Linked DNA regions of Homo sapiens: all the other regions are linked to region 1. The links come from fine-mapping of genetic effects on gene expression. A gene starts in region 1. Each other region holds a variant in brackets. All regions are shown on one strand. Distances are between the middles of the regions. Region 1 holds the start of RFX2 (regulatory factor X2). Region 2 holds the start of SLC25A41 (solute carrier family 25 member 41). Region 3 overlaps RFX2 (regulatory factor X2).

Region 1 (8,180 bases):
CAAGAGTTTGAGACCAGCCTGACCAACATGGTGAAACCCCATGTCTACTAAAAATACAAAAATTAGCTGGGCATGGTGGCGTGCACCTGTAATCCCAGCTACTCGGGAGGCTGAGGCAAGAGAATCGCTTGAATCCAGGAGGCGAAGGTTGTAGTGAGGTGAGATCGTGCCACTGCACTCCAGCCTGGGTGACAGGCGACTCCATCATAAAAAAAAAAACAAATTAAAAAAGAAAATGCTTTGGAATTAGATATAGGTGGTGGTTGTACAACATAGTGAATGTACTAAATGCCACTGAACTGTTTCCTTTTAAAATGGCTCATTTTATGGTATGTAAATGTCACCTTAATTTACAAAAATGTGCCGCACAAAAGCAGGACTCTAAGAATTTGCCACCTGTTGGCTTGTCTTTTGCTACTCTGTGCTTGTCTTTTGAGATAACTGGGGCCACAGTTTCCGCCTCTGGCCAGGGCTGGGAGCGGGAAGAGGTCTAGCTTAGCTAAACGGGTTGACCAGCAGTTCCAGGACAGGCGGTCACCTTACTCCCCGAGGCTACAACTTGAGATCGCACCACTGCACTCCAGCGTGGGCCTGGGCGATACAGCAAGACTCCAGCTCAAAAACAAACAACAACAACAACAACAAAAGACACCCTCCATTGGTTTCCCAGTCTGATCGTGACTTCTTCCCTACGGCCTCCAATAAAATGATGGCCATCATATCATCCCCTGACTCACTCACCCCACCCACTCACTGCTCTTCCCCTTTCATTGGCTCCAGCTGTGCCCAAGGACCTGCTTTCTGTTTCTTCCACATCAGCTTTCACCCCAGGGATTTCGAATTCCAAACTATTTTCCTTTGTTCCTCGTTACTCCAACGTTGCCTCAAATGTCAGCTCCTTAGAGAGACCCAGGGTGACCAACTCTTCCCGCTTTGGGGATTTCCCGGTTTTAGCACTGAAATTCCCATATCCTGGGAAACCCCTTAGTCTTGGGCCAAGCAGGATTGTTGGATATCCCAGGGAGATCATCTCTGGCTGCTCTATCTAAGGTAAGCCCCACCCACCCACTTCTCCCACCAAGCCACTACTGTATCACTTTTCCTATGGCCATGGGAATTTTATCTATTTTATTTACACCTGTGTCCCTAGCACCTAGCAAATAGTAGGCGCTATCTATCTATCTATCTATCTATCTATCTATCTACCTATCTATCTATCATCATATACTATATATATACACACATATATGTGTGTGTATATATGTGTGTGTATATATATAAATGTATATATATATATATTAGAGACAGGTTCTTGCTCTGTCTACCAAGCTGGAGTTCAGAGGCACAGTCATAGCTCACCACAGCCTAGAACTCCTGGGCTCAAGCGATCCTCCCACCTCAGCCTCCTGAGCAGCTGGGACTATAGGTGTGCACCACTGCGCCTGGCTAATTTATTTTATTTTTATAGAGATAAGGTCTCACTATGTTGCCCAGGCTGGTCTTGAACCCCTGGCCTCAGACGATCCTCCTGCTGAGTCACTGCACTTGGACCTCAATAAATATTTTTGACTAAATTAATAATTGAATGAAAGGGACTGATTACTGTAGACCACTTGAGCTTAAGAATCTGTCACATGGCCAGGCGCAGTGGCTCCTGCCTGTAATCCCAGGACTTTGGGAGGCTGAGGCGGGTGGATCACTTGAGATCAGGAGTTTGAGACCAGCCTGGCCAACACGGTGAAACCCCGTCTCTACTAAAAATACAAAAATTAGCCAGGCGTGGTGGCGCGTGCCTGTAACGCCAGCTACTCGGGAGACTGAAACAGGAGAATCACTTGAACTCGGGAGGCGGAGGTTGCAGTGAGCCGAGATCATGCCACTGCACTCCAGCCTGGGCGACAGAGACTCTGTCTCAAGAAAAAAAAAAAAATTAGAAGATGATGAAATCAATTTAGCAAATCACCGTCAACATTTTAATTAAAATGAAACAGAACAGGAAATATCAGAGTGCGTTAAAGTATCATTTCACGGTACTTTAGTTACAGTATCATTTGTTTTAGTTATAGATATGTTTGTGTGGACTGAGCCCCTAGGTAAAATGTATTTCCTGCTGTATGCTGTGGTCAAAAATGTTTGAAAACCACCCATCTAGTGATCAAGAGCATGGACTTTGGCACTAGACTACTAGGGTTCCGATCCCTCACAAGCTGTTTGACACTGGGCAAATTCACTCATTCTTTCTGGGCCTCAGCTTCCTGATCTGAAAAATGGGGAAAGGCCGGGCATGGTGGCTCATGCCTGTAATCCTAGCACTTTGAGAGTCCAAGGCGGGCGGATCACTTGAGGTCAGGAGTTCCAGGCCAGCCTGGCCAACATGGTGAAACCCCGTCTCTACTAAAAATACAAAAATTAGCTGAGCGTGGTGGCGGGCGCCTGTAGTCCCAGCTACTTGAGAGGCTGAGGCAGGAGAATCACTTGAACCCGGGAGACAGAGGTTGCAGTGAGCGAGCCAGATCGCACCACTGCACTCCAGTCTGGGTGACAGAGAGAGACTCTGTCTCAAAAAAAAAAAAAGAAAAAACAAAACAAATAAAAACGGGGATAATGCCTAGCATCTTTCTAAAGATGCGATTGTAAGATTTAATGAGTTTGCATATTTAAAAAATGCTTAGATCACTTTCAGGCACATAGCAATTTAATCAGTGCTCACTAATATGATTTCTTGTTGAATGAATGAGTGGGGCTGAAGCCTAATCTCCTGCCTTTTCTCAGTACAAGTTGTTTTCTCCTATTCTTCCAGCCCCTTGTCTCGAATAACTATATGTTTACCTCTTTATTCTGTTTGCTGTCAATGTTCCCTCACTAGAATAAAAGTTCTATGAGGATCTGTCTGTTTCTGTCCTACTCGTAGCTGAATCTACCAGCTTGAGAGGAGGGCTGGTGAGTTTGGCAAACATTTTCTGTAAAGGACCGTATAGTAAATATCTTAGGCTTCGCGTGGGACATGCCGTCTTTGCGCAACTACTCCACTCCGCCCCTGTAGTGTCAAAGCAGCCTTCCAAGCTGTTCAAGGAAATGGGCGTGGCTATGTTCCAATAAAGCTTTATTTACAAACCCAAGCAGGCAGAATTTGACCCGCAGGCCGCAGTTTGCCAATCTTTAAACTAGTTCAAAATACTGGGCCCAATACAATAAAAGAGAGTCTCCTATCAGGTTCACACCCCACAAAAGCTCCTTTTGATAGTTTCTTTTTTTTTCTTTCTTTCTTTTTTTTTTTTTTGAGACGGAGTCTCGCTCTGTCGCCCAGGCTGGAGTGCAGTGGTGCGATCTCGGCTCACTGCAAGCTCCGCCTCCCAGGTTCGCACCATTCTCCTGCCTCAGCCTCCCAAGTAGCTGGGACTACAGGCGCCTGCCACCACGCCCGGCTAATTTTTTGTATTTTTAGTAGAGACGGGGTTTCACCGTGTTAGTCAGGATGGTCTCGATCTCCTGACTCCGTGATCCACCCGCCTTAGCCTCCCAAAGTGCTGGGATTACAGGCGTGAGCCACCGCGCCCGGCCGATAGTTTCTTTTAACCATGTAAAAAATATATATATATTTAAATTTTCAGCTGGGGGTCCGTGAAAAACAGGCGGCGAGCGAGAGTTTGCTGACCCCTGATCAGACTGTTCCCACATGTCCCACACTCCTCCTGTGGGGTAAACGGAGTCCCTTGGGTCCCCTAAAACTGGACTTTCCCAAAACGCGCCACCAACCCACGGCGCCGCGCGCGCGACCGGTTCGCCAACCCTCTGAGCCGCGCGCGCCTCCCGCCAAGACCCGCCCCTCTTCGCGGCCATTGGCCGAGTCTCGCACTCTTTTTCAAGGGGGAACGCCTCCTCCTTCCGACAGACTCTGCAGACAGCCAATGGAACGCCGTAGGGTCTCGCGCCCCGCCCTCTTGGGGGCCCGTTGGAGGCGAGCGTGGGCGGGCCGTTAGGAAGGTGGGGCGCGGAGCCTGGTAACCGTTGCCGGTAACAACGCCCCGCCCCGTCGGGCGGGCGGGCTGCGCGAGGCTGGCTGGCGGCGGGAGCCGGAGGAGGAGCGGCCGCCGCCGCCACCGCCGCCGCCATAGAGACTGTAGCCGTGGAGACTGTTACTTACCAACGGGGACCAACACGCAGCAGCCGCTGCCGCCGCCGCGGGAGCCGCTGCCCGAACTCCCGGCCCGAACTCCAGGTGACCGATGCGACCGCCCCGGGCCCAGCCCGGCCGGGGAGTGTGGGGGGCGGCGGGGACCCCGTTCGGGGGCCGGGGGGCGGGCAGCACGTCCCCGCCGCTCACCCCAAACGTCCGGGTGGTGCGCCCGCGGGACCCGCCTCCGCCACCCCGTCCGCGCGCGCGGCGGAGTTTGGGGGGACCCTGGCGACGTCCCCACTTTCCTTATTGACTGAACGCGGGGGAGGTGCGGTGCCGTCGCCTCACTTTTTACAAAACTTCCTGAGGTTGGGGCGTCCGGGGACCCCTTTCTCACGCTTACCTTCAAACTCGCTGAGTTGGGGGCGCCCCGGGAACGTCTCTCAAACTCCTCAAACTCCCTGAATTGGGGGCGCTTGGGGACCCTCTTCTCACCTTAACCCCCTAGATCTCTGAGTTGGGGGCACCCAAGGACCCCTCTTTTACTCATACCCTCGAATTTTCTGAATTGGGGGCGCCAGGGGACCCTCTTCTCACGTTTACTCCCCAGATCTCTGAGTTGGGGGCACCCAGGGACCCTTCTTTTACTCAAACCCTCGAATTCTCTGAATTGGGGGCGCTTGGGGACCCTCTCCTCACTTTTACTCCCCAGATCTCTGAGATGGGGACACCCGGGGACCCCTCTTTTACTCATACCCTCAAACTCCCTGAATTGGGGCCACCTGGGGCCCTCTTCTTACTTTACTCCCCAAACCTCCGAAATTGGGGTGACCCCAGAGCCCTTCTGTCACTCTTAGTCGCAAACTTCTTGCATCGGGGGGACCTCGAAGACTCCCTTCTCATTTTTACCCCAAATTCCTAGATCTGACTTGTCCCGGGGACCCCCTTTTTAATGGACTCCCAGACATACTGAATTTGGGGGCACCCCTGGAACCTTTTTCTCATTCCTTAACTAAAAGCTGGTGCGTCTGCCCTGGGGAGAACCCCTCTTGCCCTTCTCACCTTTTCATCCCAAACTCCCCGAGCGAGCTTCCCCGGGAACTGTTTCTCACCTTTTTGCCCCAAATCCTCGCGTTCAGGTCGCCTCGGACACCCCCTCCCCTTCTCCCTGTGACCCCATATTCCTGAGTATAGGGGTTCGTGCGTCCGCCAGTCTTTCCACGTGCCCCCAAGATGCCCCTCCGCACGTCCGCAGCTCTCCTCTTAGGACTGATCTGGAAGGGAGAAAAGTTTCACCAACGCGAGTGAAACTTTTTTTTTTTTTCAATTTATTTATTTTGTTAAAGAACCTAAACTGCTCCAGGCATTTTCTCCGAGGTAGTGCGAGTGCGTGTGTGTGTTTGTGGATTTAAACTCCACCCCCTGCCCCCACCGCCCACCAGCGCGCTCGCGGGCGCACACACACACTCACACACACACACTCACTCACACCCCAAATGCTCATTTCTTTCTTTTTCCTCCCTCCGAGAAGCCTCCGCGCTCCCTCGCCACCAGCCTCCGGCTCCGTTCCTTTTGGTTTTCCTCGCTGCACCGCTGGGAAAGTTGGATTTCCCGATCCTAGTGGCTATTTCAAGGGCCCCCGAGGGCCCCAAGCGCCCGGGCCATTCTGGCGGCTGCCGGCGCGGTTCATCTTCCTATTTTAACCTCCTGGTTGTGCGGCAAGAATGGGGAGGGGAGAGGGCAAGATGGAGCTCGGGACCCAGGGCTGGCTGCCTTACCCCCGCCCCCCCAGGCTTCATTCCTACTTTGGGGTGTTGTTAGCATTGTGCCTCCCTGCAATTATTTTCCTGCTTTGTATCATAAATGACCAGCGCAGGCTTCGATGAGTTCTTTTCCCTCTCAGTCAGCTTCATCTCTGTATCAAACCTTGTACAAGCTTCATTCTCTGTTTCAACTAAGAGTTCCCCAACAAAGTAACAGTAATAATAATAATGACACAAAACAACAAAGACTTTTTAAAAAAATTTTTGCCTGTACATATTGTTGACATGTATTTTATCTTTTTACATCGTGCCCTGAAACATTGTTTGCTTATGGAAAGATCCTTACCTCCCGTCCTTCTGGATAAGGAGGAGGGGGGCATCTGTGCTTTCTCCTGCTCTAGTTTAAAGACTTGAACTGACTCTAAAATAACCTTAGAAACGACAACTCACCTACTCTGACCAGAGAAGTAAGAGTTTATGGTAACCTCCCTAGGAAAAGAATTTAAGTTCTTGAATTACTAGGGCTTCTTCATCAACAGGCGTGGTACGGAAGGCAACTTATAATGTATGATGGGAAAGATCACTGTTCTGTGATTCTGTGACAGTTCAACGGACTTGGGTTGGGAATGAGTTCTGAAATAGTTTGCTCCTGCAGGAAAAGCAATACTGAAATATTTTAGTTTTTTAAGTTCTTTCTTATAAACCACTGAATCTGAGAAGAGAGAGACAGTTATTACCTCAATAACAGGACAAGTTCTTTGAAATCACTTGATCTTTGCTTTCTGCGTGAAGGGCACGCATTACCTTAATGTATGTGTGATGTATATTTAAATACAACAATATAATATAATGTGTATGTGATGTATATTTAAATGTAAATACTCATCTTTTAACATTGTTTATCATTGAAGTACTGCTAAGGATGGTTCTGTCCACCAGAAATGCAGGTGCTGGGGAATTGTTTATCTGGGTCTTATTCCTTAGATCTAATTGTTTAGTTTTACATTAGCATTATAATTAATAAAAATATTAAATTGGCTTAACTTTAATATTATAATCGAGTCAAAATTTTAAATGCACCTGTGGATTTTTTTTTTTTTTTTTTTTTTTTTTTTGAGACAGGGTCTCACTCTGTCACCCAGACTGGAGTGCAGTGGCAAGATCTCAGCTCACCTTAACATGCACCTCCCAGGCTCAAGGGATTCACCTGTCTCAGCCTCCTGAATAGCTGGGATTACAGGCATGCACCCCCACACCCGGCTAATTTTTGTATTTTTAGTAGGGATGGGGTTTCACTATGTTGGCCAGGCTAGTCTCAAACTCTTGACCTCAAATGATCCAACCGCCTTGGCCTCCCAAAGTGCTGGGATTACAGGCGTAAGCCACCAAACCCGGCCCCTGCACCTGTGGATTTTTGTTTGTTTGTTTGTTTGTTTGAGACAGAGTCTTGCTCTGTCTCCCAGGCTGGAGTGCAGTGGCACCATCTCGGCTCACTGCAAGCTCCACCCCCGAGGTTTACACCATTCTCCTGCCTCAGCCTCCCGAATAGCTGGGACTACAGGCGCCTGCCACCACGCCCGGCTAATTTTTCGTATTTTTTAGTAGAGACGGGGTTTCACTGTGTTAGCCAGGATGGTCTCGATCTCCTGACCATGTGATCCGCCCACCTTGGCCTCCCAAAGTGCTGGGATTATAGGCGTGAGCCACCGCGCCCGGCCGGCACCTGTGGATTTTTATAGTAGCTAGTGATTGTTTTGCTCATAAAATGCTGGGGCCAGAAGGAACCACATCTTATAATATATATTTGTTTCTAAAGTTGACATCTATTTATTAAATATTTAAATATTTTTAAAATATATATTGAAATATTAAAACATGTATATATAATATATACTTATATATTTAAATATAATAAAATTTAAATATAAATATATGTTAAATATAAAACAAATATATTTAAATATTTACAAACATTTAAACAGTATACCCCCATAGGTACCCACTTACTTGTAAAATAGGAAACTTTTGAAAAACCAAGGGAAGTTCTCATCTTGCTTGTCAGGACACTCACTAAACTGCAGGGGAGGAGAATGCGAGTCTGTGGGCCTGTCTCTGAAACTATGGGTCCAGGGCATTCCCACTAAACACAGCCGTATTTCTGAACTGAACTATATGAATATTCACCCGAAGTGGGGAAGAGAAGGACCATAAGTAACTTCATGTCAATTCAGGCCAGCTTTTGTCACCAAGTGAGTCCATGCCAAATTTACAAAAAAATTGCCAGTTTTCAGAGTTTCCTG
Region 2 (8,180 bases), 320 kb before region 1:
CACACCCGGCTAATTTTTGTATTTTTAGTAGAGACCAGGTATTCCCGTGTTGGCCAGGCTGGTCTCGAACTCCTGACCTCAGGTGATTTGCCTACCTCAGCCTCCCAAAGTGCTGGGATTACAGGTGTGAGCCACCGTGCCTGGCCTAATTATTATTACTTCTTTTTTGTGGAAATAGGATTTCATCATGTTGCCCAGGCTCATCTCGAACTCGTGGGGTCAAGGAATTCGCCAGCCTTCAGCCTCCCAACGTGCTGGGATTACAGGTGTGAGCCACATGGTCCTTGGTGTTCCTTGGTTTATGATAGACTCATCACTCCACTGCCTGCCTATCTTCATACTGTATGCTCCCTTATGTGTGTCTGTGTCTCTCTGCCCAAATTTCCATCCTTTTTTTCAGATGCAGTTTCGCTCTGTTTCCCAGGCTGGAGTGCAATGACGTGATCTCAGCTCACTGCAACCTCCGCTTCCCGGGTTCAAGTGATCCTCCTGCCTCAGCCTCCAGAATAGCTGGGATTACAGGTGCACACCACCACAACTGGCTAATTTTTGCATTTTTAGTAGAGACGGGGTTTCACTATGCTGGTCTTGAACTCCTGACCTCAAGTGATCCACCCGCCTCGGCCTCCCAAAGTGCAAATTCCAAGTTTGTTTTTTTTTTTTTTTTTGGAGTGCAGTGGCACGATCTCGGCTCACTGCAAGCTCCGCCTCCCGGGTTCATGCCATTCTCTTGCCTCAGCCTCCCAAGTAGCTGGGACTACAGGCACCCGCCACCACAGCCAGCTAATTTTTTTTTTTTTTTGTATTTTTAGTAGAGATGGGGTTTCACCATGTTAGCCAGGATGCCTCCCAAAGTGCTGGGATTATAGGCATGAGCCACCGCGCCCGGCCTTTTTTTTTTTCTGAGATGGAGTCTTGCTCTGTCGCCTAGGCTGGAGTGCACTGGCGCGATCTTGGCTCACTGCAAGCTCCGCCTCCTGGGTTCATGCCATTCTCCTGCCTCAGCCTCCCAAGTAGCTGGGACTACAGGCACCCGCCACCATGCCCAGCTAATTTTTTGTATTTTTAGTAGAGACGGGGTTTCACCATGTTAGCCAGGATGGTCTTGAACTCCTGACCTCGTGATCCGCCTGCCTCAGCCTCCCAAAGTGTTGGGATTACAGGCGTGAGCCACTGCGCCTGGCCGATTCCATGTCTTGTAAGGACAGCAGTCATCGGATTAGGGCAACCCCCCCCAATCCAGTGTAACCTCATTTTAATTTGATTATATCTACAAAGACCGTATTTCCAAATAAGGTCACATTTGCAGGTTACTGGGGTTAGGGCTTGAACACATCTTTTTGGGGGACAAAGTTCAACCCACAATGAGTAATTCAAATTTATTGTGGAAAAAATAGAAAATTCAGGGTGGGTGGGGTAGCTCATATCTGTAAACCCAGCACTTTGGGAGGTCGGGGTGGGAGGATCGCTTGAGGCCAGGAGTTTGAGACCAGCCTGGGCAACACAGTGAGACCCCATTTCTACAAAAAATTTTTCAATTAGCTGGGCATGATGGCATATACCTGTAGTTCCAGCTGCTCAGGAGGCTGAGATGGGAGGATGACTTGAGCTCAGGAGTTCAAGGTCACTTGAGCCCAGGAGTTTGAGACCAGCCTGGCCAACATGGTGAAACCCCGTCTCTACTAAAAATACAAAAATTAGCCGGGCATGGTGTCACATGCCTGTGATCCCAGCTACTCGGAAGGCTGAGGCAGGACAATCACTTGAACCCAGGAGGTGGAGGTTGCAGTGAGCCAAGATTGGTCCATTGCACTCCAGCCTGGGTAACAGAGCAAGACTCCATCTCAAAAAATAAAAAAATAAAAGATTGGGTGCAGTGGCTCACGTCTATAATCCTAGCATTTTGGGAGGCCGAGGCGGGTGAATCACCTGAGGTCAGGAGTTCGAGACCAGCCTGGCCAACATGGCAACCCCGTCTCTACTAGAAGTACAAAAATTAGCCGGACGTGGTGGCGGGCACCTATAATCCCAGCTACTCAGGAGGCTGAGGCAGGAGAATTGCTTGAACCTGGGTGGCAGAGGTTGCAGTGAGTCGAGATTGTGCCACTGCACTCCAGCCTGGGCAACAAGAGCAAAACTATGTCTCAAAGAAAAAAAAAAAAAGACACTGTCGCTGCCATCCTGGTTATTGGTTACATGCTCTCTCTCTCTCTCTCCCCCTTTCTCATAACATTTGCTCTGGAGGAAGCCGGTGGTCATGCCATGAGCAGCCTTATGGAGAGGACCATGTGGTAAGGAACTCAGCCAATAGCCATGTAACTGAGCTTGGAAGAGGATCTTGCTGTCCTGGCCAACATCTCACTGCAATTCTATCAGTTGAATTCCCTGGATAGTCCAAGCTTTGTGGATCCCTCCACCGAAACAACTGGATCCCAGTACCTGAATCCTGAATCTTAGACTCTTATACTTCAAACACTGATCACGGGAACAGCCGGCTCAGCGGCTCCTGAGTTCCTAATGCTCAGAATATGGGTGAGATGATAAATGTTTGTTGTGTTAAGCTGCCAACCTTTGGCGGGGGGGTAATTCGTCACATGGCAACAGCTGGCTAATACATATATACCTACATGTATATGATTTTGTCAGGTTTTTTGTTTGTTTGTTTGTTTGGTTTCGGTTTTGGTTTTTGAAACAGGGTTTCACTCTGTCCCCTCCCCAGGCTGGAATGCAGGGGTGCAATCATGGCTCACTGCAGCTTCAAACTCCCAGGCTCAGGTGATGCTCCCATCTCAGCCTCCGGAGTAGCTGGGACCACAGGCACACACCACCATGCCTGACTACTTTTTTTGTTTTTTAGAGACTGGGTCTTACTCTGTCACCCAGGCTGGAGTGCAGTGGCACAATCATAGCTCACTGCAGCCTCTAATTCCTGTGCTCAAGGGAGCCTCCCCCTTCAGCCTCCCAAGTAGCTGGGACTACAGGTGCACATGACCACACCTGGCTAATTTTAAAAAATTTTTGTAGAAAAATTTCTTGCTTTGCTGCCCAGGCTGGTCTTGAACTCCTGGACTCAAGTGATCCTCCCGCCTCAGCCTCCTGAGTAGCTGGGATTACAGGTATGCACCACCACACCCAGCTAATTTTCGTTATTTTTAGTAGACACGGGGTTTTATCATGTTGGCCAGGCTGGTCTCAAACTCCTGACCTCAGGTGATCCACCTGCCTTGGCCTCCCAAAGTGCTAGAATTACAGGTGTGAGCCACCACGCCCAGCCAAAAATAATTTTTAAAACTTAGCCGGGCGTGGTGTCCGCACCTGTGTTCCTAGCCACTCGGGTGGCTGAAGTGGGAGAACCACCTGAACAGAGAGGTCAAGGGGATTGACCTTAAGTGTGCCACTATACTCCAGCCTGGGTGACAGAGTGAGACCATTTCCCATCAGCTGTTTAGCAACCTTAATTCTTTTTTTTTTTTTCTTTTTTTTTTTTTTGAGACAGGGTCTCGCTCTGTCACCCAGGCTGGAGTTCAGTGGCAAGATCTCAGCTCACTGCAGCCTCCACCTCCCAAGCTCAAGCAACCCTCCCACCTCAGCCTCCTGTGTAGCTGGGACCACAGGCATGGACCACCATGCCCAGCTAATTTTTGTATTTTTTATAGAGACAGGGGTCTGGCCATGTTGCCCAGGGTGGTCTTGAACTCCTGGGCTCAAGTGATCCACCTGCCTTGACCTCCCAAAGTGCTGCTATTATAGGAATGAGCCACGGCGCCCAGCCTAGCAAAGTTTTGTTGTTGTTGTTGTTTGTTTGAGATGGAGTCTCGCTCTGTTGCCCAGGCTGCAGTGCAATGGCTCAATCTCGGCCCACTGCAACCTCTGTCTCCTGGGTTCAAGCAA[T/A]TCTCCTGTCTCAGCCTCCAGAGTAGCTGAGATTACAGGGGCACACCACCAAACCTGGCTAATTTTTGTATTTTTAGGAGAGACTGGGTTTCACTATGTTAGTCAGGCTGGTCTCGAACTCCTGACCTCAGATGATCTGCCAACCTCGGCCTCCCAAAGTGCTGGGATTACAGGCGTCAGCCACCACATCAGGCCTAGCAACCTTATTTGTATCTGCAAACTTAATTCCCCTTTGCCATGTAACAAATGTAAGTCAGCCCAGGCTGCTATAAGGAAACACTAAAGAGCGGGGTCTTAAACTGCAGACATTTATTTCTGGAGGCTGGGAAATCCAAGGTTAAGGTGGCTGGCTAGCTCAGTTCCTGCTGAGGGATTTCTTCCTGCCATGCCTTCTTGCTGCGTCCTCCCATGGCAGACAGAGAGAGAGAAAGAGCTCTGGTTTGTCTTTTCCTTATAGGGAACTAATTCCATCTTGCAGGGGCCATCCTCATGAGTTCATCTAACCCTGAGGACCTCCCAAAGGCCCTGTCTCCAAATTCCAACCCACTGGGAAATAGGGCTTCAACATAAGAATTTTGCGGCCGGAAGCAGTGGCTCACGCCTGTAATCCCAGCACTTTGGGAGGCTGAGGTGGGCAGATCATGAGGTCAGGAGATCGAGACCATCCTGGCTAACACGGTGAAACCCCGTCTCTACTAAAAAATAAAAAAATTAGCTGGGCGTGGTGGCGGATGCCTGTAGTCCCAGCTACTCGGGAGGCTGAGGCAGGAGAATGGTGTGAACCCCAGAGGCGGAGCTTGCAGTGAGCCAAGATAGCGCCACTGCACTCCAGCCTGGGAGACTGAGCGAGACTCCGTCTCAAAAAAAACGATAATAATAATAATTTTGACAGGACACAATTCAATTTATAACGATAACATATTTATTGGTTTGGGGGATCAGGAGGTGGATACTTGGGGGAAGGGGGCCATCACGCTGCCCACCACACCTAGGAAGGTCACAGGGGCGTTTGTGACTTCATCCTCCTCTTGGTCCCCCACACAATCCTCCCACTAGACACTCCCGCATGGTAGCTGGAGCAGCAAACAACTGCTTAGGGATTTGAAGCCAGGTGTCCTAACTTCCTCCATGGGCGCTCAGCCTGGGGAACCTCAGAACACTTGCTCTAGGATCCAGACACTGTTTAGGAGGGTCAAGACCTTACTCATCAAAGCCCCGCCTCCCCCCCAACCTCCGCCTCCACCCCCATCCTGGAACCCTGGCTGTACACACGTGTATGGGTACGCGTTTGGCCACATGCATGACAACAACCTTGAACATCTCCCGTCACAGCAGGTGAGTTTAGGAAACACCAGTGTCCCGGCACCTCTGGTCAGGACTACAGGGAGAGGCCAGGCTACCCACGCCCTCTACAGGCCCACTCCCCTGCTAGCGGACCTAGAATTCCACCTTGAAGCAGGGTGGGGCAGGGAGGCAGGGCGCGATGGCTCCACACATGTAATCCCAGCACTTTGGGAGGTTGAGGTGGATGGGTCACTTGAGGACAGGAGTTCAAGACCAACCTGGCCAACATGCCGAAACCCTATCTCTACTAAAATTACAAAACTTAGCCAGGCATGGTGGTTGGCGCCTGTAGTACCAGCTACTCAGGAGGCTGAGGCAGGAGAATCGCTTGAACTCAGGAGGTAGAGGTTGCAGTGAGCCCAGATCTCATCACTGCACTCAAGCCAGAGCAACACAGCGAGATTCTGTCTCAAAAAATAAGAATAAATTAAGAGTCTAGATATAGTCCTAATTACATTTGTATTCCTCCTTGGATCCTCCATGAGTAACTTAGAGAGTCTATATTACATTGGCTGGGTGTGGTGGCTCACACCTGTAATCCCAGCACTTTGGGAGGCTGAGGCAGGTGGATCACCTGAGGTCAGGAGTTCAAGACCAGCCTGGCCAACATGGTGAAACCCTGCCTCTATTAAAATAATACAAAAATTTGCTCGGCACGTTGGCACTGTAATCCCAGCTACTGGGGAGGCTGAGGCAAGAGAATCACTTGAACCCAGGAGGCGGAGGTTGCAGTGAGCCGAGATCACACCATTGTCCCTACTTGGGAAGCTGAGACACGAGAATCGCTTGAACCAGGGGGACAGCGGTTGCAGTGAGCCAAGATCGCACCACTGTACTCCAGCTTGGGCGATAGAGTGAGACTCTGTCTAAAAAAAAACAAAAACAAAACAAAAAAAAACCAGGGGGGAGGGTTGAATCACTTGAGGTCAGGAGTTAGAGACCAGCCTGGCCAACATAGTGAAACCCATCTCTACTAAAAAAAAAAAAAAAAAAAAAAAAAAAAATTAGGTGTTGTGGTGCATGCCTATAATCCCAGCTACTCAGGAGGCTGCGGCAGGAACTGCTTGAACCTGGGAGGTGGAGGTTGCAACGAGCTGAGATTGTGCCACTGCACTCTAACCTGGGCAGCAGAGCAAGACTCCGTCTCGAAAAAAAAAAATGCAGACTTGGGGGAACAGGGTGGGTCTTTCACCAGGTGGGTGCCCTAGATGTGTGTCTGGGGAAGGTGCCCCAACCTGGCTGAGGATGAGGGAGGGCCGGGTCTGCCCTGCAGGTACTGGACACAGGAGAGCAGCTGATGGTCCCCGTGGAAGTCCTGGAAGTGGATAACAAGGAGGCCTTGTGGAAGTTTCTACTCTCAGGAGCTATGGCCGGGGCGGTGTCTCGCACGGGCACGGCACCTCTGGACAGAGCCAAGGTGTACATGCAGGTTTGTGTGGGTTGGGGGGAGGACGGGACCCAGCGCTGGAGCCACTGGGGAGAACGTGGGGTGAGGACAGATGGAGTTGACGTGGATGGAGTTCAGGATAGGAGTGCTGGCTGGAGTTGGGCTCTCCTGGACTAGCTGAGATTGAGGTTGTGGATGGTGATAGAGCTGGTGTGGACATGGCTTGGAGTCGAGTTTGAGGAGTTGAGAGAACTTGCCAGGGACAGGGACCAACGCTGGGCCAAGGTGGGGGTTGGAGGTCAGGGAATTGGGGATGGGGTCTTTGGACGAGTTTAAAGACAAGGTAGGGGCCAGGTGCAGTGGCTCATGCCTCTAATGCCAGCACTTTGGGAGGCCCAGGGGAGGTAGATCATCTGGGGTCAGGAGTTTGAGACCAGCCTGGCCAACATGGCGAAACCCTGTCTCTACTAAAAATACAAAAAAATTAGTCGGGCATGGTGGTGCGTGCCTGTAGTCCCAGCTACATAGGAGGCTGAGGCAGGAGAATTGCTTGAACCCAGGAGATGGAGGTTGCAGTGAGCCGAGATTGCATCACTGCACTCCAGCCTGGGCAACAGAGTGAGACTCTGTCTCAAAAAAGAAAGAAAAAAAAAAAAGGCAACATAGAACTGGAGCTACCTCAAGCAGGATATCTCACACCCATAGTCTCAGCTGCTCAGGAGGCTGAGGCAGGAGGATTGCTTGAGCCCAGGAGTTGGAGGCTGCAGTGAGCCATGATCATGCCACAAACTCCAGCCTGGGTGACAGAGCGAGATCCCTGGCTGAAAAAATAAACGGGTGCAGTGGCTCACTTTGGGAGGCCAAGGAGGGAGGATTACTTGAGCTTAGGAGTTTGAGACCAGCTGGGCAATATAGTCAGACCACATCTCTACAAAATAATAATTAATTAATTAATTAATTAAAAATTTAAAAAGGAGTCGGGCATGGTGACTCACACCTGTAATCCCAGCACTTTGGGAGGCCAAAGTGGGAAGATCGCTTGAGCCCAAGAGTTTGAGACCAGCCTGGGCAACATAGTAAGACCCCATCTATACAAAAAATTTTACAAAATTAGCCTGCCATGGTAGCACGCACCTGTAGTCCCAGCTACTTGGAAGGCTGAGGTGGGAGGATCACTTGAGCCCAGGAGTTTGGGGCTGCAGTGAGCTGTGATTGCACCACTGCATTCCGGCCTGGGCAACAGAACAAGATCCTGTCTCGAAAACATAAACAAACAAAAAAACAAGAAAGAAAAGGAAAAGAAGGCCAGGCGCGGTGGCTGATGCCTGTAATCCCAGCAATTTGGGGGGCCAAGGTGGGCAGATCACCTGAGGTCAGGAGTTCCAGACCAGCCTGGCCAACATGGCAAACCCCCAGCTCTACTAAAAATACAAAAATAAGCCAGGCGTGGTGACACTAGCCTGTAATCCCAGCTACTCGGGAGGCTGAGGCAGGAGAATCGCCTGAACCTGGGAGGCGGAGGTTGCAGTGAGCCGAGATCCCCCGACCGCACTCCAGC
Region 3 (8,180 bases), 54 kb after region 1:
CCGGGAGGTCGTCCACATTGAGTGTGACAGGGGAGGGGCACAAGGGTGGAGGCCGAGGGTGGGAGACAAGCAGGGACCAGTGCAGGGGACTGAGAAGGTATCATTAGGGGGAAAAATGAAACCAGATGACAACAGCACCCAGACACGAGGGAGGACAGAGCTTCGAGGAGCGACACGAAACACTGCAGAGAGTACAAGTTCAGAGGAGGCCCGAAAACTGCCCCGTGAGGACCTCAAGAAGAACAGTGGGCAGACATGAGAATGCAGAGAGAAGACGACAGAGGCTCCCTCCTGAGAGTCTGGACTTACAAATAAAAAAGAATCCATATCTCAAGAGAAGATAAAGGATAAAGAGCAGGGTTTCAGTGGCAGTGGATGTTCTCCTCAAATGGGTGTGATGTGAGCTTGTCTATAAGCTGAAAGAATGGAGCCTGTGCAGAAGCCAGATTGCAGGCTTGATCGGTGGGTCCTTGGAGGGAGACGGAAGGCTCTAGAACCTTCAGGAAGGGGGCCAGCAGCCTTTTCCTGTAAAGGACCAGAGAGTACATATTTTAGGCTTCTGCTGGGGTCTGTCTCAGCTCCTCGCCTCTGCTGTTGGAGCACAAAAGCCATCATAGATAATGGGAAAATGGGAGTTGAAGATGCAAGGAACTGGATGTAGACAGTCTGGATGTGAGATAGTGGGGGGAGGTCAGCACAGGGAAGGAGTTGTGGGGTAGAAGGAAGTGGAAGAGACAGCATGGCAGGGGCATGGCTGAGAGCCAGGAGGTGCAGAGGCGGTGTCAGAAAAGGGGGACAAAAGAGTTGCAATTTTAGAATGGAATCTTGCAAGGAGAAAAGTACAGAGAAAAAAATGTACTTTGAGGCTTTCTCCCAAAGGCATGTGTGTGGATGTGTGAACACAGGCTCCCCCCCATCACTTTTTACTACAAGAATCGTTGTTTTTGTCTAGTGGGAGGAGTCAACATTCAATTTAATAGAAAAATGTATGGAGTAAGAAAATGACGTGTCTTCTGAGTGGTTTTGGCCATTCTTCTCATATTATCCTGCGTCAGGTGGTGTATGTGTGTGCATGTATGTGTGTCTGCATGTGTACTTTTGTGTATACATGTATGTACATGTGTTTGTGTGTGTGTGTTTGTGTATATGTGTATGTCCATGTATATTTGTGTATATGCATACGTGGGGAGTGTATACATGCGTCTGTGTGTGTGTGACACTCTCATGTCCACTCCTGGGGGACAGATATCCACTCCTGGGGGACAGAGCACCAGCTGCTGCTCGGCCTCTAGCTTGGTATCCAGTTACCTTTCACTCCAATGTGTTGGACTTTAGGGCACCCCATAACCTAAGGAGAATTTCCATTTCCTAGAAACCAAGTTTTGTGGTGTTGAAGTTATTGCTAGAAGCAGTGGAATCAGGTTGCCTGCCAAAAGAGTATTTGCTGGGTGAAAGTGTCATGAAGACTTGGTGGTTTTTTAATTCAAAATTCACCCTGAATTTGGTATATTATTGATGGCAGTTAAAATCAGACCACATCAGAGATGAGGTAACCATACTTTAGTTTGGACAATTTTTATATTAATAGTCAAATCAAGGCCAGGCGTGATGGCTCACACCTGTAATCCCAGCACTTTGGGAGGCCGAGGTGGGAGGATTGCTTCAGTCCAGGAGTTCGAGATCATTCTGGGCAACATAGCAAGACCCCTGTCTCTACAAAAAATTAAAAATTAGCCGGGCGTGCTGGTGCTCACCTATAGTTCCAGCTACTCGGTTGGCTAAGGCGGGAGGGTCACTTGAGCCAGGGAGGTCGAGGCTGTAGTGAACTATGATCGCATCACTGCACTCTAGTCTGGGTGACAGAGCAAGACTCTGTCTGAAAAAAAAAAAAGTCAGGTTTCTAAAGGGGAAGGAACGGGTGTTTCCACTGTTAAGACGGGGGTCCCTGGCTTAGGGGAGGCCTTGTCAGCGCAGCCTGCTCTCAGCCTCTGAAGATTAGAACCTGCGACTTAAGGGCCTACTGGGTGTCTGCACTCCCCCATCCCCCTTCCAGTCTGCAAACAGCCCTTTCTCAGGCCAGTTGTCAAGGGCTTGGTTCTGATCCTTTTCTAGAGAAAGGAGGGAAAGTTTGGCTCCTGAGAAGAAAACAGGAACAGAAGCCCAATTCTTACGAAAAGAAAAAGGAATTTGAATTCTGAAGATACTTGATTTCAGAGAAGCTCGGAGCCAGCTCCAGTCCTTGAAAGCCCATTGCTACAAGAGGAGAAAAAAAAAAAACCCAAAAGTGAGGAATGACGGGCACCCCCGTGGCTTAGGCACGGAGGGAACGATGGTTGCCCTTGGTGTGCATTGAAGCCTGCTGCTCTGGAATGTGTGGGTAGCCTTCAGAGGGTCCTGTTCATTTATTTCACACTCCTTGCCTGGCTGAATTGTCATGATTTTGCATCCTGCCTACTCTCCTTTTTCATCTTCCTGTTCTCACCCTGTCTACAGGCCTGTTTTACTCGGGGGCTGTTTGTCCAGACCCCTTCTTAGACATCACAAATCCATTTTGAACAGAGGTCCTTCTGCGCCCCAGGGGACACTGGGCAATGTCTGGGAACATCTGTGGTTGTCACAACTGGGGGTGCTCTTGGCATGGAGTGAGCGGAGGCCAGGGATGCTGCTCAGCACCCTGCAGTGCTCAGGACGGCCCCAGCCCAGAGATGGATCCGTCCCCAATGTCCACAGTGCCAAGTGGGGACACACACTGTCATCTTTGGTGATTATCAGGGCAGAGTAATAACTCTTGGCACTGAGAACCAACTGGGTCCACAGGGAGTAATCCTGGTGCCAGAAAGGACATGGTTCCACCATCAAGGAGGGTTCGAGAATCCACTTTTCGGCAAGGAGATGGCTTGGAGGTGTCCTCCCTGTGCGTGGGGCCAGGCCACACAAGCCTGAACAGTGAGGACAGAATCTTAAAACACGCATCACTTACTCCGAGGACCTGGCCCTCAGAGGGGAGCCGGGAGAAGGAAACGGACAAGACTTTTCTGGGCAGCCTAATGACACTGGGAGTGTTAAGACAAGCTACCAGGACAGAATCTGGGCTTTGAAGCAACTGGTACTCCTGAGAGCACTCCGGGCTTGTTCCTTCTTGTTCAGAGGGAGGAAATTAATTGCTTTCTTAGGGCAGATGAACTCTGGTACCATCTGGAGGCCAGCGAGTACCAGGAGAGGAGGAGCTGATGGCCGGAGGAGGCCACGTGCCTCCCAAACACCGAGGCTCATCAGCCAATCAGAATGAAGGTAACTAAAACCACTCAGCTAACTCTGCCCCAATTATCACCAAAGATGACAAAACATTGTCTAAATACTGATCTGAACTATGTGAGGCAGGTGACAGCTCCATTTGGCATATGGAGGAACAGGAATAGAAGAGAGATTGCTTAAGGTCGCAGTGAGTCAGCGGCTCAGCCAGGAACGGGCCCAGAAATTGCTCTCAGCGTTTTCTGCATTTCCTTTCCTGACATTGCTGGTTACTAGGTGATGGGAGTATTTTTCTGTAAACAGAAGCCTCTTCCCTTTGTGCCCAGGCAGATTCATT[C/T]ATCACGGCCGTAGTCCAGGGCTGCTTCTAGCTGCGTCTCTCCTGTGCCCCCTCACATGAAGTCAGGAAGCCACGGGAGATGTTCCCACTGGCGCGTTTGACTCAGCAGTGGCTCCAAAAGGTCAAGTGCGCATCTGGTTCACTTGAATGTTCGTTCAAGGTCAAATGAGCGTTTCGTGGATTCCAAAGGCTGGTGCCGGCCAAGGAGGGGAAATTGCGCCGCTGGTTCTGTGCTTTTCCCCTTTATTTCATGCCCGCCCTGATCTTGGACCAGATGGTAAATGAAACGTGCTCAGCTTATAAACAGCACTCCGGGCATATTTCTGAGGCACGAGGGAGGGAGCTTTGGGCCAGCCAAGCCCGTTGGCCAGGCAGGGCCAGGCTGGGTGACAGGTCGTGTTGCGGCCCCTCCCCTTTATATTGGCTGTTCCGAGGCTCCTGTAACCCAGTCTAAGAGGACACAGGGGAAGGCAGTCAAAGTAAGACTGCCCAGGTCCTCGCCACAGGAAGAAAAACAGAAGAGAGGACAAAGGAACGCGAGAAAGCAAGGACGGCAGGGCAGTCACTGAATGGGTCCAAGTTCCCACAGCAGATTCAGGTTCAGAGAAGAAGCATGGCCTCCACTCACTCACATCTACTGTCTTGCACTGGATTGAGGGGTTCCCAAACTGGGTGCTGCAAAGGTGCTCCACAGTGTGCGTCCCTGTGCCCTGTGGACTTTACCTTGAGTACACCCACGCCCTCGGGGCCCTGCCCTCTGCCCACTCTCTGCTGCGCTCTCCTCTGCCAGGTGGAGGAGTTACTCAGGATCCAGCATCACCCCTTCTGGGAGGACCATGTGAGCTACTGCGCTTACCTGGAAGCACCGCCAGGATCATGAGCCACTCCTGCTCATCGCTGGTGTCTTGTGTGTGTGTTTGTTTAACTCCTTATCATGGAAATTTCAAACATCCACAAAGTAAATACACAATGCAATGAAACTTATGAAGCCACCACCCTCTACAGGGTGTCAGGGTCCTGCCATTCTTATAACACCTGGATACCTGTACCCACTCTCCGTCCTCCTCTCCACCCTTGTATTTTTACAGGCTTCGTTGTCATTGTTAAAATTCACATACAGTAAGTGCACAAACCTTAGCTGGCTAATTTTGACAAATCACGACTCCATGTAACCGCACACTGTATTATCATACAGAATGCGTCCATCTCACTGGAGTGTCCCCTCCTGTCCCTTTCCAGTCACTCTCGCCCACCGCCACCTGCCCCCCCACCCACTATTATGATTTTTTTTTAACTTTAGTTTTAATCCACTCTACTCATCTACTCTTTTGGACTCAACTTCTTTCACTCAGCGTAATGATTTTGAGATTCATCCATGCATTGTGAATTTCAGTAATTAATTCCTTTCTATTCATGAAGAGTATTCCAGTAGTATTCCTCTATTAGCTTTTTAGCTATGCTCTTCTTTTCCATTTTTAGTGGTTGTTTTAGGGTTTTCAATATGAATCTTTAAATCATCATAATCTGCAATTTCTCGTCCACTCTCCTGATGAGGAACATTTGGGTTATTTTTACTTTTTGGTGACTGAATCAAACTGCTATGAATAAGGCTGAGGTGGGCAGATCATTTGAGCCCAGGAGTTTGAGACCAGCCTGGGCAACATGGTGAAACCCTGTCTCTACCCAAAATACAAAAATTAGCCGGGTATGGTGCTGCGTGCCTGTAGTCCCAGCTACTTAGGAGGCTGAAGTGGGAGAATCGCTTGAGCCTGGGAGGTTGAGGATGCAGTGAGCTGTGATTGTGCCACTGTACTTTATCCTGAGGGAGACCCTGTCTCAAAAACAAAAAACAAAAACCAACAAACAAAAAGCTGCTATGAACATGCTTATACAAGTTGTTATTATTTTTTTGAAGAGATATGTCTTCATGTCTCTTGGATAAAAACTACAAGAGGAATTCTGGGTTAAAGGGCAGGTTTAACTTTCTAGAAAACTGCCAAACCTCTTTCCAGTGTGGTCATATCATTCATATCTACACATGGGGGTGTGTGAGAGTTTTAGTTGCTCCATGTACTTACAACATTGGATGTTGTCAGACTTGTCAGGTTTAGCCATTCTAGTGAGTATTTAGTGATATCTTGATATAGTTTGAATTTGCATTTCCCTAGTGACTAATGAGGCTGACCACTATTCATGTACTTTTGGGCATCTGTATATCTTGCTTTGTGAAGTACCATTTTTTTAAGTTATTTGTCATCTTATATTGAATTGTAGGAGTTTATATATATAGATATAGATGTAGATATATTAGGATCAAAGCCCTTTATGAGATACATGTTTTGCAAATATTTCTCCCAGGCTGTGGCTTACCTATTCATATTCTTAGCAAAATCTTTTAATGAGCAGAGGTTTTAAATTTTGGTGAAATCTAATTTCTCAAGTTTTTCTTTTATGCTGATTTGTGCATTCTAAGAAACCTTTGTCTAACCTCCTATGTTCTCTCTGAGAAGTCTTATAGTTTTAGCTTTTGTGTGTAAGTAAGTTCATGTTCTAACTTGAAATCATTTTTATGTATGGTGTGAGGTAGGGGTCAAGGTTCATTTATTTTCCCCAATATGGATATTCTGTTGATCCATCACCATTTGTTTAAAAGACTTCTTTCTCTGTTGAATTGCCTTGACACCTTTGTGAAAATCCAGTTGAGGAAGAAAAGAGCTGAGGCTCCATTAGAAAAAAAAATCAATTGATAATCTAAGTGTGGGTTATATTATTTATATATTGTTGAATTTGATTTATTAATATTTTAAATTATTTTTGCATATATGTGCATAAGAGATATTAGTCTAAACACTTTCCTTGTAATATATTTGTTAAGTTTTGGTGTCAGGGTTTACTGACCTCATAAAATGAGTTGTGAAGTATTCTTTTTTTATTTTCTGATGGCATTTGTGTAATAATTCCTTTTTCAGTATTTGATAGCATTCACCAGTAAAACTATATGTGCCTGAAGTTTTCTGTGTAGGGAAGTTTCCAATAACATATTCAATTTTTTTGTTATATGTATTACATTCACATTTTTTTATTTCATCTGTGTCAGTTTTGTTATGTTGTGTTTTTAAAAAAGTGTTCATTTTATATGTTATTGAATTTATGGGCTAAAGTTGTTTGTAATAGTTCTCTATTATCATTTTGATTTCTGTAGAATCTCTAGTGATATATTTCATTTCATTCCTGATATTGGCAATTTGGGTTTTCTTTTCTTATCAGTCTTTCCAGGAGAAGTTGTTAATTAACTTTTTTTAAATACTTGCTTTTTTTTTTTTTTTTTTTTTGAGATAGAGTCTTGCTCTGTCACCCAGGCTGGAGTGCAGTAGTGCAATCTCAGCTCACTGCAACCTCTGCCTCCTTGGTTCAAGCAATTCTCCCACCTCAGCCTCCTGAGTAGCTGGAATTACAGGTGCCCGCCATTACACATGGCTCATTTTTGTGTTTTTAGTAGAGACAGAGTTTCACCATGTTGGCCAGGCTGGTCTCAAACTCCTGACCTCAGGTGATCCACCCGCCCTCGGCCTCCCAAAGTGCTGGGATTACAGGCATGAGCCACCATGCCTGGCCAAGACTTGCTTTTTTAAAGAGCAGTTTTAGGTTCACAGCAAAATTGACAGGAAAATACAGAGATTTCCCATATACCCCATACCTCCACACATGCACAGCTTCCCTCATTATCACCATCACCCACCAGAGTTGTACATTTGTTACAGTTGATGAAATCTGCATTAACACAGCATTTTCACCCAAAGTCCATAGTTTCCTCGAGAGTTCACTGTTGGTGTTGTACATTCTATGGTTTGGACAAATGTATAATGACATGTGTCCACCATTATAGTGCCATACAGAACAGTTCCAGTGTCCTAAAAATCCTCTGTGCTTTGCCTACTCATCCCTCTCTCTGATACCTGGCAACCACTGATCTTTTCATTGTCTTCATAGTTTTGCCTTTTCCAAAATGTTGTTTAATTAGAATCATACAGTATGTAGCCTTTTCAGACTGGCTTCTTTCACTTCATAGTATGTGTTTAAATTTCTTCCATGTCTTTTCATGGCTTGATAGCTCCTTTCTTCTTCTGAAAAAATTTCAGTTTTGAAGAAATATTGCTTTTGTTCATTTTCTCCATTGTTTGTGGAGTTTCTAATTTCATTAATTTTGTTCTTTATTGTTTTTCCTTCTTTCTATTAAGTTTAGTTTGTTTGTCTTTCTATATAGCTTTTTAAGGTTGAAAACGTTCTTAAATCTTTCTAACATAAGCATATAAAGCTAAACATCTCTTTCTAAGCACTGCTTTAGGTGTGCCCACTTTTTTTTCTTAATAATTTTACTTCTTTTTTTCACCCACAATATTTGTACCAGTGCCCACAAATTTTGATACAAAGTGTTTACATTATAATTCAGTTCAAAATATTTTCTATTTTTCTTTGGGGTTTATTATTTGACCCATGGATTATTTTGAAGGTGTATTTTAAGTTTTCTAAATATTTGGCATTTTTCTAACCTTCTTACTGATTTCTAATTTACTCCACTGTGGTCAAAGTG

The links.
Region 2: its variant is fine-mapped to the expression of RFX2 in whole blood (INTERVAL, PIP 0.95).
Region 3: its variant is fine-mapped to the expression of RFX2 in whole blood (TOPMed, PIP above 0.99).

The regions. Positions count from the first base shown.
Region 1 is chr19:6,106,432-6,114,611 of GRCh38, reverse strand. RFX2 (regulatory factor X2) reads left to right here and starts at 4,112. Exons shown (of 18, transcript NM_000635.4): 1 at 4,112-4,219. RefSeq lists a silencer at 3,791-4,250 and an enhancer at 5,098-5,598.
Region 2 is chr19:6,430,533-6,438,712 of GRCh38, reverse strand. It overlaps SLC25A41 (solute carrier family 25 member 41), which reads left to right and starts at 4,950. Exons shown (of 7, transcript NM_173637.4): 1 at 4,950-5,226; 2 at 6,509-6,664. The coding sequence starts at 5,020. It also overlaps a transcript of SLC25A23 not described here. The variant T/A (reference allele first, on the strand shown) is at 3,892.
Region 3 is chr19:6,052,697-6,060,876 of GRCh38, reverse strand. All of the region lies in intron 1 of RFX2 (regulatory factor X2), which reads left to right. Among named protein-coding and RNA genes, the nearest start is that of RFX2-AS1, 5.8 kb to the left of the region's middle. The variant C/T (reference allele first, on the strand shown) is at 3,590.